2 separate regions of the Homo sapiens genome follow, and region 2 is linked to region 1. Evidence: fine-mapped expression QTL. Tissue or cell type: prefrontal cortex. Region 1 holds a variant in brackets; the other region holds the start of a gene. All regions are shown on one strand. Distances are from middle to middle. Region 1 has its middle 28 kb from the start of CELF2-DT. Region 2 holds the start of CELF2-DT (CELF2 divergent transript).

Evidence for each region. PIP is the estimated chance that this variant, and not a neighbour inherited with it, causes the effect. A credible set is the group of variants that fine-mapping cannot tell apart.
Region 2: it holds the start of CELF2-DT, and the variant in region 1 is the best candidate, but not a certain one, in a credible set for the expression of CELF2-DT in prefrontal cortex (CommonMind, PIP 0.71).

What each region holds. Positions count from the first base shown.
Region 1 is chr10:10,485,776-10,495,576 of GRCh38, reverse strand. It overlaps a transcript of CELF2 not described here. Among named protein-coding and RNA genes, the nearest start is that of CELF2-DT, 28 kb to the right of the region's middle. The variant T/ATT (reference allele first, on the strand shown) is at 3,115.
Region 2 is chr10:10,459,293-10,469,093 of GRCh38, reverse strand. It overlaps CELF2-DT (CELF2 divergent transript), which reads left to right and starts at 6,745. Exons shown (of 4, transcript NR_120637.1): 1 at 6,745-6,905. It also overlaps a transcript of CELF2 not described here.

The DNA of each region.
Region 1 (9,801 bases):
CGGACCCTGTGGCTGTTCAGGTAGAGAGGACAGGGATGAAAGTGTGGATGATGTTTAAGGCACCCTTGAGGTCCTCTACATGAGTTTTCTTTAGTAACCTTAAGTTCTCCACTAGTTCCTAGTAAAGGGGCAATGTCTAAATATTGGGTGGAAACACCCAAACAGCCATTCTTCTGTCCACATACATCATGGTAAGGCCACAGAACTCTTCAAAGATATGACTCACAGCTGTTTAATGTTCCATACATAATATGAACTCTTTTTGATGTTCTTGTTTACAAAGAGGTAAATTTTTTTTGAGATAGAGTCTCGCTCTGTCGCCCAGGCTGAAGTGCAGTGGCACCATCTCAGCTCACTGCAACATCCGCCTTCTGGTCACGCCATTCTCCTGCCTCAGCCTCCCGAGTAGCTGGGACTACAGGCGCCCGCCACCATGCCTGGCTAATTTTTTGCATTTTTTTTTTAGTAGAGACGGGGTTTCACCATGTTAGCCAGGATGGTCTCGATCTCCTGACCTCATGATCTGCCCGCCTCGGCCTCCCAAAGTGCTGGGATTGCAGGCATGAACCATTGCACCTGGCCACAAAGAGGTAAATTTTTGATGGGACACAGTGGACTTTCAATTCAGTCTTTAATTGCTTATAGGCTAATATTAACTTAAAATAGCCCAAGCAGTGGTATCCCAATCCACCCTAGCTTGATTTTCTCTACTGTCATTTAGCTTAATTTGGACCTTTTGTTGTATGTAGATTCATATTAATTTTTATCTGAGACATCAAATCCCAGAGTCTAATCATATTATTTTTTATAGAGGCCTTTGATAGTGAATATGGCATTTAGATGAGAAACTCTAAGATCAGGTACAATGATGAACACAGAACAGATGCTCAAAAAACCCTCTGTGATTGGTTTAAGAGAAGAGCTTCACTGAAGAAGATTATGCTGAGGGTGTCTAACATGTGTATAAAAAAATGATCTGAGGAAGAAAATGTCAAATCTCCTTATCATATATTTATTGCTTTCCTTTTTGTTAATTAGAACAAACCAATCAGTTTTTCTATGTCTTGTTCTTCCCGTATGTAAAACACCATTTATTGGAAAGCAACTGGCTACAGTATTAAGAGAACTTGTAATGCGCTCTGCTATTTCTCAGAATGCCCATTTCTCTGAGTGGGAATAGTCAAAGATGTTGAGTTACCCTTCATATTCTACCATTCAGTAACAAAGCCTACTAAAAGAAAATGTCCATGTGTTATTAGAAATTCAACTTTACAGGAAAACATTCTGAATTCCAGTATTTCAAAACCCTGCTCCATTGATCTTGAGGCTGCTACCTTTTCATCCCTTCCTTTGAAAGGAAACATCATAAACTGGAGAGAGAGTGATTCCTGCAGCGTGGTCTACATGGTTCAGGCTGAAATGTATTCATTAATTCACTGTTTGTGAAGCATTCATTCCGTGCCAGGCAAAGACTGCTGTGCTTTGGAGGCAGTCAGCCTCTCTTGGGAGAGACATTAGTGTAAACTTCTCAGAGATTTTACCCTGGAAACACTTCAGGGCCCCTGAGAACAAAGAACCATGAGGTCACCGGGGAGACAGCACATCTTCTGCTTTGGATGGTCAGGGGAAGGTTAGAGGCAGGTTGGCAAAATGGTACTTTCTAGGCAGAGAACAACATTATGATCCAGACTCAAAGGGATGGGCACAGAGCAGCCTACCGCTTGTTAAACAGTTTGGGCTTTTGCAGCTGGGCACGGTGGCTCAGGCCTGTAATCCCAGCACTTTGGGAGGCCGAGGCGGGTGGATCACTTGAGGTCGGGAGTTTGAGACCAGCCTGGCCAACGTGGTGAAACCCTCTCTCTACAAAACATACAAAAATTAGCTGTATGTAGTGTCAGGCACCTGTAATCCCAGCTACTCAGGAGGCTGAGGTGGGAGAATTGCTTGAATCTGGGAGGCGGAGGCTGCAGTGAGCCTAGATCATGCCACTGCACTCCAGCCTGGGCAACAGAGTGAGACTCCATCTCAAGAAAAAAAGAAACAAACAAAAAAAAAACGCCCAAAATCCAAACAAACAAAAAAAGAATTTGGGCTTTTGCTAAAGGCTGTGAAACTTATTTTTTTTTGGTAAAGTATATATAAAATTTACCATTTTGACCATTTTTAGGTGTACAGTTTAGTGGCATGAAGTACATTAATACCTTTGTGGAACCGTCTCCACCATGCATCTCCAGAACTTTTTCCATCTTGCAAAACTGAAACTCTGCACCTATTCGCCCATAGCCATCCATGCCCCCTCTCCCCAGACCCTGGCAATCACCATTCTACTTTTCTGTTTCTGTGAATTTGACTACTCTAGTGCCTCATTTAAGAAAAATCGTACAGTATTTGTTATTTTGTAATTGGCTTATTCCACTTAGCATAATGTCCTCAAGGTTCATCCATGTTGTAACATGTGTCAGAATGTCCTTCCTTTAGAGGGTGACCGTATCAGTTTGTTCTCATGCTGCTAATAAAGACATACCTGAGACTGGCTAATTTGTAAAGAAAAACAGATTTCATGGACTCACAGTCCCACATGGGTGGGGAGGCCTCACAATCACGGCAGGAGGTGAAAGGCACGTCTTACTACACGGTGGCAGGCAAGAGAGAGAATGAGAACCAAGTGAAAGGGATTTCCCCTTATCAAACCATCAGCTCTCATGAGACTTATTCACTACCATGAGAACAGTATGGGGGAAACTGCCCCCATGATTCAGTCATCTCCAACCAGGTCCTTCCCACAACATGTGGGAATTATGGGAGCTACAATTCAAGATGAAATTTGGGTGGGGACACAGCCAAACCATTTCAGTAACTGATACTTCATTGTATTTATATGTCACTTTTTGTTTATGGTGGTCACTTGGGTTACTTCCACCTTTTTGTTATTGTGAATAATGCTGCTGTAAACGTGGGTGGACAAATCTCCCTTCAGTTTCTTGCTTTCAATTCCTTTGGCTATGTACTCAGAAGTGAAACTGCTAGATCATATGGTAGTTCCATGGTTTATTTTTTTGGAAGAACCGCCATACTTTTGTCTGCTTTCCAAGTGCAGCTTGCATATATATATAT[T/ATT]TATTATACTTTAAGTTCTAGGGTACATGTGCACAACGTGCAGGTTTGTTACATATATATCTATGTGCCATGTTGGTGTGCTGCACCCATTAACTCATCATTTACATTAGGTATATCTCCTATTGCTATCCTGGAGAGACAGACTAATCAGCTTGGTTTAGAGAACTCATTTCCTGCTCTGAGGAGAATGGAAAAGAGGGGCAAGGCTGGATTTGAGCTGTTGTGCAAACGGATTAGAGATGGAGATGTGATCAGAGGCTGTCTGTTGTGGAAGAGGACAGAGGATGAACTGCAGAGATTTTCAGAGAAGTACAGTCAAGTGCTTAATGATGTTGGTGATCTGGCATCACCAATAACTAGTCTCTGACATGAAAGAAAATTAAAAATAGAATAAATCCTAAATTACTGAGTTAACTGGGAAGGGATGGAGAATGGAATAGCACAAGAAGTGAGAGGACGGGAGGAAGAGGGGTAAGAAAATGGGAAAGTGGGAAAGAGAGGGATGGGGCATTCAAGAAGAAAGGAAAAAAGACCTGGCAAAAAAGGATCTCATGTATAAGAAAAGATCATGTTTATGAAAAGACGATCATTTGGGCTTGTATGTAACAACAAATGCAGTTAAAAAGATGTTCTTTAGACGTGGTGGAGAAAGTCAGGACAAGAAAGACATAGACAACTAGCTGGTTACTGGCACCAGCTAGATGAACCACTTTTGTCAATGTGGCTTAACTGAATTGACTATTTAACTGAGCACAAAGATTTCACTGGCTTTGGGTTTGAATGCAACACAAACTTTTTGTTTCAGAGATTAGAGATAGGAATTCACATTCTAAAAGAATTCATGAATGCTCCATCATGAAAGTAAGAAAATTAATACCCACAGTTTGTAACAATGGGCTTCATGCAGTTGAGCTGAGAAAACCCTAAGATTAGCTATACAGTCCAGGAGCCACCCATATTTAGGAAAACACAGGGCTGCCAGCGTATGTTTGTAAGAACAATTAGAATGAAGATTATCTTCCTGAAGATACCAAAGAGCAAGAGGCAAAGAGCACCAAATGAATTCAAAACTATTTCTAGTGCACATACTGCAGGAAACCTCATTTAGTCATATTTTAGAATGGATATGCTATGCAAACAAGTATAATTTCTGTGCAAGACAATTCTGCATCTATTCAGTGTGTCTGGATGAAGTTTTTGAAACACACTGAAAAAAATATATTGAATAGATTTTAATGTCAGTGAAAGGGGCTGGATTGAAGTACCTAGACTCATTTGTGTGCTTTGCTAGGGAAACCTCTTTGCCAAGTAAGTTCCTCTAACTTTGACCTTGAGGGAGCTAAGCTGGTTCAGAGGAGGAGGAATCAGTGGTTTTCTAGCTGCGATCAGATTTAAGTTTTCCTTAGTCCATTCCCTACAGACATTTATATAGTAGTGGTTTTTCTTACAATAGTCACTGGGAAACAATAACCAATTAAGTGAAAACTTCATACCATTTGCTCCTCTAATGCTGTTTTTATGTGACCTTCTCATTTGTAGTTTGACATCTTTTGGAGGTGAAATATCTCTGGCTGTAAAACTCTTCCATTTGTATAGAAGCTTGTCTTTAATCCCAAGTAGCCATTATTAACTCCCTTGGGCAATTTGGGTCAACCTTTTTTATCTTGGTATTCATGTGGGAAGAAGGCTGTTTACTTAGCGGGGTTTAGACATGGGGAAAGAAATGACCACTCCCAGTCTAGGGGCTTATGCTCATTTGTAACCTATCCTCATATCCCTATGTTCTTCACTTTTTTCTGCTCTTCTTTATTTTATGTAATGTGTGTGTACCTGTGTTTACATTAATATCTGTGAATAATTTCCAGCCTATTGTGCACATGCTCCACCCCCCCCCAACCAGATAGATTAGATTATAAATGATAATCTCTGGGATGACAGAGAGGGCACTTTTGCCTCTTTAAAAATACCCCTTTTCCTCCAAAATCATCACAGACAGGTTTGACTCTGCAGTGAATATCCTTTAGTGCATTTGGCTGAATGAAGTCCAAAAAAGTAACCATAATAAGACATTCCTGGACAAAGGCATTTTCCACAGAATCACATTAGGCAGACTTGGCAGATGCCATGTGATAAAGGAAAACAGTGATTTCTGCTCATGACAATTTTGCAAGCCTTAAAACCAAATTTCCAACTGTAGTTTTTCATTTCCTATCTCTTCGAATAATAGGATTGTTTCTAATTTAGGCAAAATTTGCCTAAATCTGGTATTTAGGCTAAATCTGATATTTAGGCAAGCCTAAAGAGTTCTGTTACTGTTACAAATGGTATTTTAGTTGTCATTAGTTTATGACATGATAGGAGTGATTTTTTCCCCCATGACATTCCAGAGAATTTTACTGGAAGAATAATCAAATGTGATGTTTCAGATAAATAACAAAGGTTTATGTTAGTCATGCCATAAAGTACTCTGCATCTTTCCTTCTGACATCTGAATCTCTGTAAGTTACACAAATATGTGTTCCTTCTGCATGATGCATAGAAATCCACCCACCCTCCCCCCAAACCTGTACTCACATAGATTCTTAATTTAAAAATGTGAATGGAAAAGTTATTTTTCTGGAATTCTAGAGTTCATGAGGTTGTTTGCTTGAAATTGTCAACTCCACCTGAAATCTTACCATTTTGCTGATTTTCGTCACGTTTTGTTTTAAGGATAGGCCACACAGGATATATTAGCACACATCACTCTCAAATAATTAATGGACTACTTTATAAAATTGCTCCAGAATATTAAAAATCCAAAGCATTGCCCCAAAGTATAGGTCTCTCATGCCTAAGCAATCATCTGTAGTTGCAGTTGCTATTTTTGACTGACATATAAGAATCAAAATTGAATTCATTTCTAATATACACCGTATACTCACTGAGTTATGTGAACAAATGGGAGAGCTAATTGAAATGATTAAATAACACTAAGAAATGAAGAAACATGAAAAATACAATATGATCGGACACTGCCAAAACAATCAGTACTAGACGGAGCTGACACTGAAAAATGTAGTCTAGTTTTAAAATTATCAGTGATGAAGACTCTCATTATGCTACAAATGTACCAGCACTGTTCCAGTTACAATTTGGAAATCCCAGGGCTGTTTGTCCTTCTGGATGAAGGTGACGACAGGACTAACATATCTGGACTCTCTAAGAAAAATCCTTTAGAGAAGTGAGGTTTCATTTTTGTTAGGTTGAGTCATTATTATCCTTCAGTATTAAGTTCTGTAGGGTGTAGGTTATGGGAAGTTTTTTTTTGGTGAAGAAGTTGGTGTGAAAATGTTCATCAGTGAGATGTCTAGAGCTTCTTGACAGCACTTTACAGGGCTGGGTGTTTGAGATGTGTATCAGAACCGCATTCGCTGAAATTACATTGATATTTAATGGAAGATTCTCCATAGCCTTGCTTGGAGGAAATTAAGCTGGCCACTATCACCATTCCCTACTCTAAATTTTGCCACTTTCAGTAGAGGAGGGTGTTCAGACATGTTGTTCTTTGTGTCTCTGTTGGGGATTTTGGAGTCAGGATTTTGATCCCAAGCTCCTTCTTGCATTGGTTATACGGTTTTTCAAACCTTGAAGGAAAAGAATGGAAAGATTTGATAATGAATGTACTTCAGTTTAACATCTACGTTAATTTGCTATGTCAAATTAATGTTATCAGTTTTTAAGGCTATACCTGTTATGTTTCTTAATACCATCATTATACAAACAAATCTCTGTTGAGAAAGAGTAGAAAAGAGAATAAAAGTGTAGAAATATGGTAATAATAATACCTGCCATTTCTTGAGCAATTAATCTCCTTGTGCATTAGTTTCTTGTCTATAAAATGAGGAAGATATTAGTAAAATACATGATTAAGTGAGCAAATACACATGAAGTGTTTTTGTAGCTTATAAGTTATAGCTAATACTGAATAAAGATTCAATACAGCTAGGTACCAGGTATGCTAAGCATTCTCCACAAATCACCTCTTCTGTCCATGAACACAAGTCTATCAGGCAAGTATTTCCAGCTTCTTTGTTGCAGATGAGGAAACTGACACATAGGGAAATTAAATAATCTGATGAGGTCACAGAACAAGTAGCTCTCCTAGAATTTGAAGTTTGATTTGTCTGACTCATGTTTTCAACTCTTTCACTAGTTCAGTCGTTTGTTTTCATCGCTATATTGATTTCCAAATAAGGATTGGGATTACTACTCCATTAGATTGCATTGAAAAGGCAATATAATAAGGATATCCTTAACTAATACTTCAAAATAAATTATAAATCAAGTTAGTTACATTTGATTTATCAAAATTAATGTTTTATGGTTATAGAACATGACAAGTTTATTTTCACTTTGGGGACTTTTGTTTTCTCATGAACTGTTGAAATTAGCTCATTCCATTAATAATATATTGGCTTTCACTGTTACATTTTTATGTAACAATCATGTAATGATCACATAATGATTATGTAATGATTATGCATTATTAAACAAAAGAACCCTAATAACATTTGCAATCTTTGGATTACAAATACTACTAACTTCAATTTCTCATTCTTATGTTCAACTATTTGATACAGATATATTTTTATACAATTTAAAGGGTTAAGCACAAAGACCACCATTACTAATTCATTTGGTATTCATTTTAAGACCTTTAATCGTGATGCATTAATTTGGTATAAATGTGGATATATTATTTCTTAACAATTCCACTGGAATTTACCAGTTAAATTGTCTAGTATAATTTCAACATCTTCTCAAATATGCATCAAAGTATAAGGTTTTGGTTATGAAACTTCCAAAGGTGAAGAAAGAGTCAAAGCATTTTTTTCTTTTCACAGGCGATATTGTAATACCCAATGGAAGGATGGGGTCATGGACGTCATGAAAAAGCCAGGGTAAAACTATCCACAGTTAATAATGCAGAAAAACATACTGTAGTGTGTTTGATTTAAAATTCCTGGGATTTAATGTACAAAGCTTTAGAACCAGTCCAATCCATGCAAGACAAAATCAACCAGGCTGCTGTTTGGCTTTGTAAATGGCTGAGATGTAACTTAAGAGAGGGAAGCTTTTGATTGTAAATAACCTCCCAGCCTTCATGCTGCTCTGACCTCTGACGTGGCCACTTGGCCATTCTACAATTTAAATTTTACAACTGTGCTATAAGTAAAACATTGGCAACTAATATCTAATAATAATAGTAACAAAGTAGAATACACGATCCAAGAAGAGCTGTCTTGAAAGGACAAAAGAAGACATTGCAGCATCCCCATTTGCTGAGAGCCATCACAGAAATCATAGGAAGCCAGCAAGATGTCTATTCTGAAACATGTCTACTTGTCCTGATACCTTTAAGCATAAAATGCTTCTACATTCTCTATGCAAGTGAAACACACCCCTAGGCATATACGATGGACAGGGAAATTTAATTTTATACTAGGGGAATGAAGAGATGGGATAGGAAGATAAATGTCAAATTGCTGCTTTGAGCTTTTTATAGTAATTCCTCTCTGCTCCCTTTTTGCCTTTCCTGACCTTTAGTGGACTGAGTCTTCTCCATCATCATTAGATCCTTCTGCTTTTAACACATGTCAATGGCTTCCTAAGTTAGGGTACAAACTCCAGGACAACAAACCCAAGAATGTTTATCTAGATTACTTTTCAAAATCCAATATAGGTTGAGCATTCTAAATCTGAAAATCCAAAATGCTCCACAGTTCAAAACGTTTTGATCACCACTGACATGACGCTCAAAGGAAATGCCCATTGGAGCTTTTCAGATTTCAGATTTTCAGGTTTGGAGTGCTCAATCAGGTAAGTATAATGCAAATATGACAAAACTCTCCCCATAATAAAAGGCCAAAAATCTGAAACACATTGGGTCCCAAGCTTTTGAGATACGGAATACTCAACCTGCTGTATAATGAATAGTAAATAGCATGCAATGGTGTAAAATGTAAAAGTTACTTTTGTATGAAGACAAAAAATGCAATTTATTAGAGAAGACTCATTTGAGCTCTGATGTTTAGCAGTTGCTCTCTCTAGATCACAAATTAAATCATGGTATTAAAATCATTATGGGGCCAGTTTCTAAGCCTTTCTATGTGCACTTGCATTCCTGTGTGGGTTTAATTAACCAGTGAGAAAAGGAAAAGGTTGGAGTTCTTTACTGGTGTTTGTATTATCTGTTGATTGTTTTCCTTAGTGCTTTTTCCAGTCTAGATTTAGAAGCTTGAGAATGAAGACCACCATTTCCACCTCTACCACAGGCTCTTGGAGCCTCATTGACATTTCCGGGAGAATAAAGAACATACTACTGGAGAGGCTGTAGCATTTCTTCAATATCTGAATGCCATTATTCTATGTTTCCATGATTCTAATTCTACTCCATGCTCTGATGCATGCAATTAACTCATTGGAAAATGGTCTTTCTTGACATGACTGCTGAGTATAGAATGTAAAAGTTTCTGATCACAAACTTTGATGAATACAGGGGTGATTTCACTTCCTCTCCTGTATTTCTCCACATTGTAATTGTCAGTTATTATTTTTAACACAAGTAAGCTTTCGATTTATCCTGATTATAATGATGTTGTAGGGCTCTGTTTTGCACTTTCATGCCTATTTTAGGAACGGATA
Region 2 (9,801 bases), 26 kb after region 1:
ACTAAAACGTTATGCAAGGGGTCTTCAAAGTGTTCATGAAAAATGCATATTATGAAAACATTATGCATGGATTTCCATTTTTTTTGCACTGTAATAAGTTCATACTAACTTTTTATAAAACGTCTGAAGAGGATCTAGTTTGAGGCATACAAAGGATACAAGATGAGTTTGAAAAGAGCCCCTACTAGAGCAACATGAATTCCATGAAAACTGAAGAAAGAACAAACATCAAATTTAGAATGAAGCTTGGGTGGAAGAATGAGATCACTGATGCTTTATGTAAAGTTTATGGGGATAGTTACCCACATAAACTCACAATTTACAAATGGATAACTTGTTTAAAGGAGGGATGAGAACAGTGTTGAGGATGAAACCCACAGCAGCAGATGGTCCACATCAAATTGTGAAGAAAACATTTTTCTTGTTCACGCCCTAGTTGAAGAGGCCCAACAATTCACAGCAGGAGCAATAACCAACACCATAGACATCTCGAATGGTTCACCTTACACAATTCTGACTAAGAAATTAAAGTTGAGCAAACTTTCCACTCAATGGGTGCCAAAACCATTGTATCCAGATCAACAGCAATCAACAGCAGTGCTTTCAATAGAATTTTTAAACAAGTAGGATGAAGATTCTGAAGCATTTCTTTGAGGAATTGTAACAGGAGATGGAACATGGCTTTACCAGTATGATCGTGAAGACAAAGTACAACCAAAGCAACGGCTACCAGGAGGTGAAAGTGGTCCAATTACAGCAAAAGCAGACCACTCAAGAGCAAAGGTCATGGCAACAGTTTTATGGGGATGCTCAAGCCATTTTGCTTGTTGACTTTGTGGAGGGCCAAAGAAAGATAGTATCTGTTTATTGTATAAGAGTGTTTAGAGAACGCCAAAGCTTTATCATAGAGTCCTTCACCAAAACAATGCTCCTGCTCATTCCTCTCAAACAAGGACAATTTTGCAAGAGTTTCAGTGGAAAGTCATTAGGCATCTGCCTTGCATTCCTGATTTGTCTCTTTCTGCCTTTTTGTTTTCTAATCCTAAAAATTATTTAAAGGACACCATTTTTTCTTCAGTTAATAGTGTAAAACATGTTGCCTTGTCATCAGTTAAATTCTCAGGATTCACAGTTCTTTAGAGATAAACTAAGTGGCTGGTATCATTTCTTATAAAAGTCTCTTGACCTTGATGGTGCTTATGTTGAGAAATAAAGTTTACATTTTTTATTTTTAACTTTCAATTCCGTTTTTCCATGACCTTCTTGAAGTCCCCTTGAATATTTAGGAAAAATTTCACAACAATAGTGAAATACCTATGTACCAAAAACTACAATCCATTGCTTAAAGAAATTAAAGAACAACTACATAAATGAGGAACAACAGAAAAATTGTTTATGGATGGAGGACTCAATAGAGTTAACATGTCAATTTTACAAGTTGAATTTATATTCGATGCAATTCTAATAAAAATTTCACCAGAAGTTTTACTGGGGTAAATATTTATGAGCAAATTCTAAAATTTATATCAAAATGAGAACTTAGAAGAGCCAAAGCAATTTTTAAAAAGAGAAAGTTGGAGAATATACAGTATCTTTTTCCAAGACTTACTATAAAGCTAATCAATACAATGTGGAACTAGTGAAAGAATAAATGTATAAATCCATGGTACAGATCCCAGAAAATGACAAACACACCTACTGTCAAGTGATTTTTGACAAATAAACTAAGGTAATTAAGTGGGGGTAAAGAATAGTCTTTTTAGTAATGGTGCTGAAGCAACTGGCTCTCCATATGACAAAAAAATTGACCCTTGGTTTTTATTTCATACTAAACATAAACATTAGCTCAAAATGCATGATATAACTGTGTGTGAACACTGAAATTATAAAATTTATAGAGAAGCACTTAGGAGAAAAATCTTAGCATTTCCACTTTGTCCACACAAAAAAGTATGAACCGTGAAATAAATTTTTATGCTAGTATATTATAAGTGGTATATTGGTATATTGTGGTATGTTGGTATACTGGTGGTATACTGGTAATTTGGATTAATTCAAATGAAAGTATATTGTGCTTTGAAAACACACCATTAAAAATAATAGGAAAGTCACATACTGGGAGGAAATGTATTCCATACACTCATCTGAAAAGAGATGTCTATCCAGGAGAAAAAATAACTCCTACAACTCAATATTAAGATGACACATGGAGCCCAATAAAAATTGGACAAAATATTAGAACAGATACTTTACCATAAGCCAATGTGTTCATGAAAAGATGCCCCACATTATTCAATTTCAGGGAAGGTTTATTAAAACCACAGCGAGTTAATACTACATACCCGTTGGAATGGCTAACACTGAAAAGACTGGCAATACACAAAATGTTGGCAAAGATACCCAGCAACTGGAATTCTCCAACATTGCGGGAGAAAGTATCAAATGTTACAGCCACTTTGGAAAACTGCTGGGTTTTTTCTTATACATTTCAACATATCTCTACCATATGATCCAGCCTTTTCAATTCTAGCTGTTTACCTGAGAGAAACACCTATGCCTACATTAAGGCTTGCACATGAATATTCATACAGCTTTACTTATAACAGTTCCCAAATGGAAAGTACCCAAATGTTCATCCACAGGTGAACAGATGAACAAACTATTGCTTATTTATATAGTGAAATACTACTCAGCAATAAAAAATCTACTGATGTATGCAACAGTATGTATGAATCTGAAAGTCAGTACGCAAAATGAAAAAGCCAGACACAAAATCCATACTGCATAATTCCATTTATATGACATTTTATAAAATGTAAATTAATCTATAGTGACAGAATACAAATCTGAAGGCCTGTCTGAAGGCCAGGTGTGGAGGCAAGAGTCAAAGTGACACAAGAAACTTTTGTACGAATGGAAACTCTCTGCAGCTTGATTGTTGTGGCTTCACAGGTGTATAAATCAATGAAAGCTCATCAGATTGCTCAAGCGGTACTTTAAAAGGTACATAGAAATATCAGATTATGCAACGTTGTTTCAGGAGAAAGACATTCTTGTTTCTTGGATCACATGTAAGAAGCATTTGAACAGATGCTAGAACAGCATTCTCAACATATACTCACTATTCTGTTGCAATTTTCCTCTACAGTCTTGGGGGCATTAACATGATAATGAAGAAAACAGAAGGTATAAAATCATGGGGCAGGTATAACCACACATCAATTCAACACGAACACAGAGGTTAAGACTTAGAGCTTGTTAGCTGGTAATTGTCTTGTATTTTGTTTAAACCACAGGTGGACAAGCCCGCCATAACCATCTCTTTTCCTTACAAGTTACCCATCTTCCACTAGGATGGAATAAAAGAATTATAGTGTTGGATGGGGTCATTTCCTCTTTGTAAAGATGAGGAGGATAGAGGACTAAGTAGATTATGAATGACAAAGGCAGTGGGTGATGAGAAATGAGACTTGATACCTCCTGACACCCCATTCAGCGCTTCCTGCCCATTTTTATTTTACAGTAAAAACACACAAAAATTACAGCTGTTAAGACTACTTACATCCATAAGAATTTTTTCAAAAAACACAGGAAATAGAAAACATGTGTGGCTATAGGTGAAGAATTGAAGCAAATGAGAGAAGCAAACATTATGTCAGCTCCAGACACTCAGAAATAAAGTTACAACTTTTCTTGATCCCAATAGCCTGATACAATGCTAAGGTCATCATAGACTAATTAATCAAATTACATTTTCTAGTCTACCTGCTGCATTTCTTACTACATTGTAATTCCCCTGATGACCAAGACATGGCTTTTTCGTTTTTCTTGTTTCCTGAAGATTCTGATATACTTCCTGTCACATAGTTGATCCTCAGTGAACATTTATAATAAATTGAGCAACTGTCAAATGTCGTATTTTCAGGGAGCAATCCGTATACTTTCATGTTGCCTTTAATGTTTATTCTGGCATTATATATATTTTTGTCCATATGTCTGTGTGTAAAATAACAATGTGTATTCTCGTCAGAAGGTATTTTCTATTTCAACACCTGTGCAAGTAGAAGGTGAAAATCCTTCCCAAATGCCGCAAGAGCTCATGGCAAATGCAGAACTATTGTTAAGAAATTTTTCTCTTGAGCCTGTAATGTCATAGCACTTCAGTGAGGGCAGAAGAAAAGACAAACTGATATTACGTATCCTTAGGTAAAAGGATTTGGGGCTATTCCTGACTCTCTATTGAAAAAATAGGGTAAAATCTAACTAACATAATTTCAGTGTTATTCAATGTTTTGTTAATGGGGGAAAGCATCATTTTAACTACAGCAATCTATAGTGTTATGGACTGATTACTAGTTCAAATGACAGAGTCCTACAGTGAAACCCATAATTTTACATTGCGTTCTGCAAAAGATGATGGCAGTTCTTCACATTTAATGGTGTTGCTAGCTCAGAATCTTGTTAACACTCAGAGTCTGAGAGGTTGTGCTTATCCTTTCTTATTTTAAGCCAGAAGGAAAAATTTTCAAAGATCTATTGGCCTTTGTTTTTCACGTACGGGATTTTGGTCAATTAGAAAATTACAAAGAAGAGGCACCTCAATTTGAAAATTTGAGAATAGAATGATAAAATTATAAAGAAATGAATTTTTTTCCACAATAAAAAAAAAGACAAGTACTGTGGTTTGACTTGCGTTTAGCTCTTTGTAGCTATTTCTAGTCACTGATTCTATGGAAAGTCGCTAAGGAGTTAGTCGCTTGTTACTGGGCAACAATTTATTCCAATTATAACTGAAATGTTGCTAATAGACAGTTACCGGTGGATAAGAACAGACTTTAAAAATGAACTATTAACTCCACAGCATTTTCTCTTGTTGTAAAGAGGCAGAAATTATTCTAACAATTGACACTTTGTAATGTTCTAAGGTCTTTTTAGACATTTCAAGCGCTCTGGGGGCACCGGTGAGGACCCAGGGGCGGCATGGTTCAGAGCTGTTAAATATAGAGCGACACAATTAGATAGAATAGCTATAGAGACCCGAGACCAAATGTTACCAGCGTATGGAATGCCACATTCTCTATAAGATGCAAATAGCATACAACCTTCAAAATCCATAGGAGTTTTTTTTTTTTTTTAGAAAAAGGTTTTAATGGACATTTGGTAACTACATTCTGTTTTTGACAACCTCCCCATTACATTTCTAGTTATCTATTCAAAACCAAAGGACAAAAAATAAAAAAATAAAAACTACACCAGTTTACAAAGAACAATGGGGCGAAAGCAAAATGTATTCCTTGCTGTTTCACACGTGCTTTTAAAGGAAACAAACAACCAAACAAACAGAGAAATTGTAGTTCCTAAGTTTCTTGACCCAAATCCAAGCAGACTCATTGACAAGCCTAAACCTCTCCGTGTGTCTTCCTGCTTCTGAGGCTAAAATATGGATAAGCTCAAAGTTTGACACATGGATATATTTTCAAATGACATGTTTAGTGTACAAAAAAAGAGATGTCTATGTTTTTTTCTTCTTTATAACATTAAGATGTGATGTAAAATATAGTAGCCAGAGTTGCATTTTTCACATGAGCAAAAGTTACATGCAGAAAAAGAACAGAAGTTCGTTGATTGTAGGATATGTAACCTTGAGAACTTTATCTTATAGCCAACGGTCACACATTCTGAAATGTCTTAAGTGATCTGGTCAGTGCTAAAGGTAGTAAGAAAATCTGGTTGCTGAAAATTTACACTATCTAATTTCAGTTATTCCCCCACAACAGAGTAACAGGCAAGCACATTCTCAGCAGCCGTTCCAGGCAGAGTATACACAGAAATACTTGTTGAATTTAATTGGGTTGAATAAAAATTTGTCCTTTTGAGGAACAAAGTTAGCATCTCAAATACAAGGTCTGCAAATGATGTAGGTTCTTCTTAGTTGGCTAATGAACTCCTGACTAGTTACAGATGAAAGGGATTAAAATGACTTTACTGAGCACTCACTTTAGTCTGTTTCATTATCTGAACTAAGGAAGTCTAAGACAATTAGGATTCCTTAAAAAAAAGTTTCATCATTGCACTTCCTGTTTGATGAGTAAACAGCAGACTCGTTATGGTCTGCAAGGTACCTATTAAAACCCGTAACATCCCTGGAAGGAAGTAACTTGGAGAAAGTCAAGAAATCTTTCTGACAGGACACCGCAACTCCAAACAATCAACAACTCATTGTCATAGTGCGACAATCTTAGCCCTGTTGCAACTGGGCAAATAGTCCATTTGCAGAGAGAAGCATCATCGGGGTAGACAGGAATGCTGTTATTAACCATTATAAGTATGACGCGAAGGTCGTACATCAGGCTATTACACCTTTTCATTATACGCTAACCCCTCACGGCAGGGAAGCCACGCTTATGACTGCATTAGACAGACAAAGCCTTCAGCTCTTTAAAAAAAGAAAAAGCAAAAAAAAAAAAAAAAAAAAAAAGATGAAAAAAATTAAACTCGTTTTCTTACCAGCACGTTGCAGCACCAACTCGCTCACAGGAATGTTGCCTTTTACAGGTTTCTCTTTTAATTATCCTAGAAGCAGGGAGAGAAAAAAAAAAAAAATCAAAAAAAAAAAAAAAGGCAAAGAAGAAGCAGGGTGGTTAAATTAGCGTGCTGGAATCTTTTCAGTTTGTCGCAGAGTAGAAAAATAAAAAAAGGAAAAAAAAGGCTCAGTAATTTAAATTTGCTCTCAGTTCAGGCTGCAATGCTGGGTCCCGCCCCTTCTTCCGGCTGGGTTCCACTACCTGCAAGGCTGGAACTGACAGCCACTGTGCAAACAAAAAAAGGCAACAAGCATGCTGGGACCATTCTGTCTGCTGTTTGGGTCTCACTTGTCCTGACAACTAAAAATCATCAGTGGAAAGGTATTCTACATTTTTTATTTGAGGTATTTTATTTGAGGTATTTGCATGTAACTCCCATTCATTTTAATTGATACACCATAGTACATGATGTTGGGTTTGATTTCTGTTTGGGGTGTAATTTTTTTTCTTTTTCTAAACATCTATAATTATTAACACTATTTTTACTATGACAGTTTAGTGACATCTTGTGCATTTCTTACTGTTCCTGTCTCCTGCTCCAAAACACATTCTTTCCTGTCTTTTCCTTTAATTCCTAAACACTGAAATTTCTGGGAATATAGAGATGGAAATACCAAGATTAGTAAGGTTTCCACTTCTGCTCTGACTCTTTCTTTTTTTGGGGATGGTGGGAGGGCTACAGGGAGGTGCATCATACTAAGAATAGTTTAAGGGACAGAGGGCCTAGGATGAAGGTCCCATCAACCCCAGAAACTTCTAGGAAGGATGAAATATTCAAATGAAAAAGTCTCCACAACGAAATGCAAGAAGTTTATTTTCGTATTTATGTATTGTGCAAATAACTAAAAATAATGGAAATAAACTTGGTCTCCATTGCCAATTTTACCTAAGGTGTCTCCTATAGAAAACCGCTTTAATTTTAGCAAGAAAAACCTGATACTTAACGTGCAGGGTATTGCGAGTGTGTAGCAGAGGAATTATGAAAGAGAATAAACCCCATCCTTCTTCTGTCAGGATGTAAATTGCTTGTGCAGAATTTTCAACAAGGTTTTTTTTGTGTGTGTTGTTGTTCTTTTCTAAATGCTCTTTTCAGACGAGTGTGTTAGCGACTACTTCAGTATTAAAGCTATCGGAAGACTGTTGTAGTAGGGAACATCTATAAAGTTGCCTCTTGATCTGAAGCACTGCTTTTATGAAGGTTTATGGCATTGGTGCTCCTATGCAAGTCTGGATTTTTCTCTGATCATCCGACTACCCTAACTTGAGAGGACCATGCTGACTGATGTGTCATGTCCCATAGCTGGGGGTGGGTTGCTAAGGAGTAAAATATATAATTGTACACAGTTCTTCAACAGTGGCCAAAGACACAGAAGAGAGTTACTCTTGATAACATGATTGTGCTTAATCTACTTTTTAAAATAAACTATTATTTACCTCTTATCCCTACCTCAAGCCATTTAAATGGATTTCACCATTTCTGCACAACTTGCAGAACCTCTTAAATTCAAGGACGCACTGCTTTAATGCATTTCACTTTTAAAAATCAGACTTTCAAAAGATAAATGATTAAAAATGTAATTTAAATAAATATGAGTTCACTTTTTAAATTGGTAAAAATTTAGCTGTCAAATATTTGTTCTGTCATTTGAGGTCTCATCAAAAAACCAAACCAATTAAAAATGGAAAGGTCTGAGATGCACAGAGTGAAACTCCATCTTTGTCTTGTATTATAACCTTTACCAGGATTATTTCTCTACTACTGTTCAGCAATGAATGCCTTTGCTCACTTCCTACTAACAGCTGTAGCATAGAAAAAAAAAAAGGGCAGGTCAAGTACTCAAGAAGCCATGTTAACTTCCCAAATAGTTATGCAATCAGCTTTAATGAAACAGTGGTAGATTACACCAATGTGCTAATTATAGGACTTTGTCATAGCATAAGATGCAACGAAACAACCCATGCCTTGGCTTGGAAAGTGCTATGCATAGATTATTTCAAAAGATTTAATTGAAGAGAGATTTTATTTTCCTGAAGCATTCTACAATTAAGTGGCATTCTTTCAATCCTTTCTCTTTTAAGACTAGTTCTGGACAAAAAAAAAAAAAAAAACAAACCTGAAAATAAAGTAATGACTTAAAAAATATCTTACTACAAATATGACTAATTTGCCAATATTAGTTACTTTGGTATAATTTTGAACATAACATACTTAGAACATGTTAGGGAATATCAAAATATACAGAGTGGCACATACTGGTTTATATTCTGAATGTCTATTTTAAATGAAGAAATAATACTTTTATGTTCATCAATGTTTATTGAGTTCAGTTAGAAAAATATTAATTTTTTAAGAGACTGAGTCTCACTCTGTTACCCAGGCTGGAGTGTAGTGACATGATAATGGCTCACTACAGCCTCAAAATCCTGGGCTCAAGCCTTCTGTGAAGGTGGGGCTACAGGTGAACACCACCATGCTTGCTAATTCTTTATTTCATTTTTTGTTGAGATAGGGGCCTGTGTTGCCCAGGCAGGTCTCAAACTACTGGTCGCAAGATAACTTCCTACCTCAGCTTCCCAAAGTCCTGGGATTATGGGAGAATGTTAATTTGAATTAAAATAAAATAACCCTGACATTAAACTTAAGAGAAGGGACATTTTTGTTTGGCTAATGTCAACTAGGTTTTAGCAAATGTGTGAGACATGTGATTCCACTAGATATTTAACCTATTATTTCAGAGAATTTTACTTGGTGCTGGAGAGATTAAGCAATATATTACATATCTCACAGCCATACTGGAAAAAAAATCCACTTCAAAAATAAATATCCCACTAAATTGTTAGGGCATTCTGTGGAGTGATACACATTTAGGTGGCTTTCACATCATGGAGATGTGTTTTAAAGAAATACACTGAACAAGTTTCCTGGAGATATATTTTAAAGAACTTCTTGGAATTGGCATATTGTCATATGCTATTTAAATTTTCATGCTCAGAGAAAATATCGAGGTGGGAAACGCTAATTCATTTTTTAAAAGCTGTATCAAATCAATACATCTTAGTCTTTCCAGTTATAACTGATAATTAAATATCATTTTCAAACTTCTTGCATATATTAAAATTATTACTTTTTGATAAATGTATTCCTCATTATGAGTCAACTGTCTTCAGTGTAATTTTACTGTTTTGTCTTTTGGGCAGTATCATACTGTCTAATAAA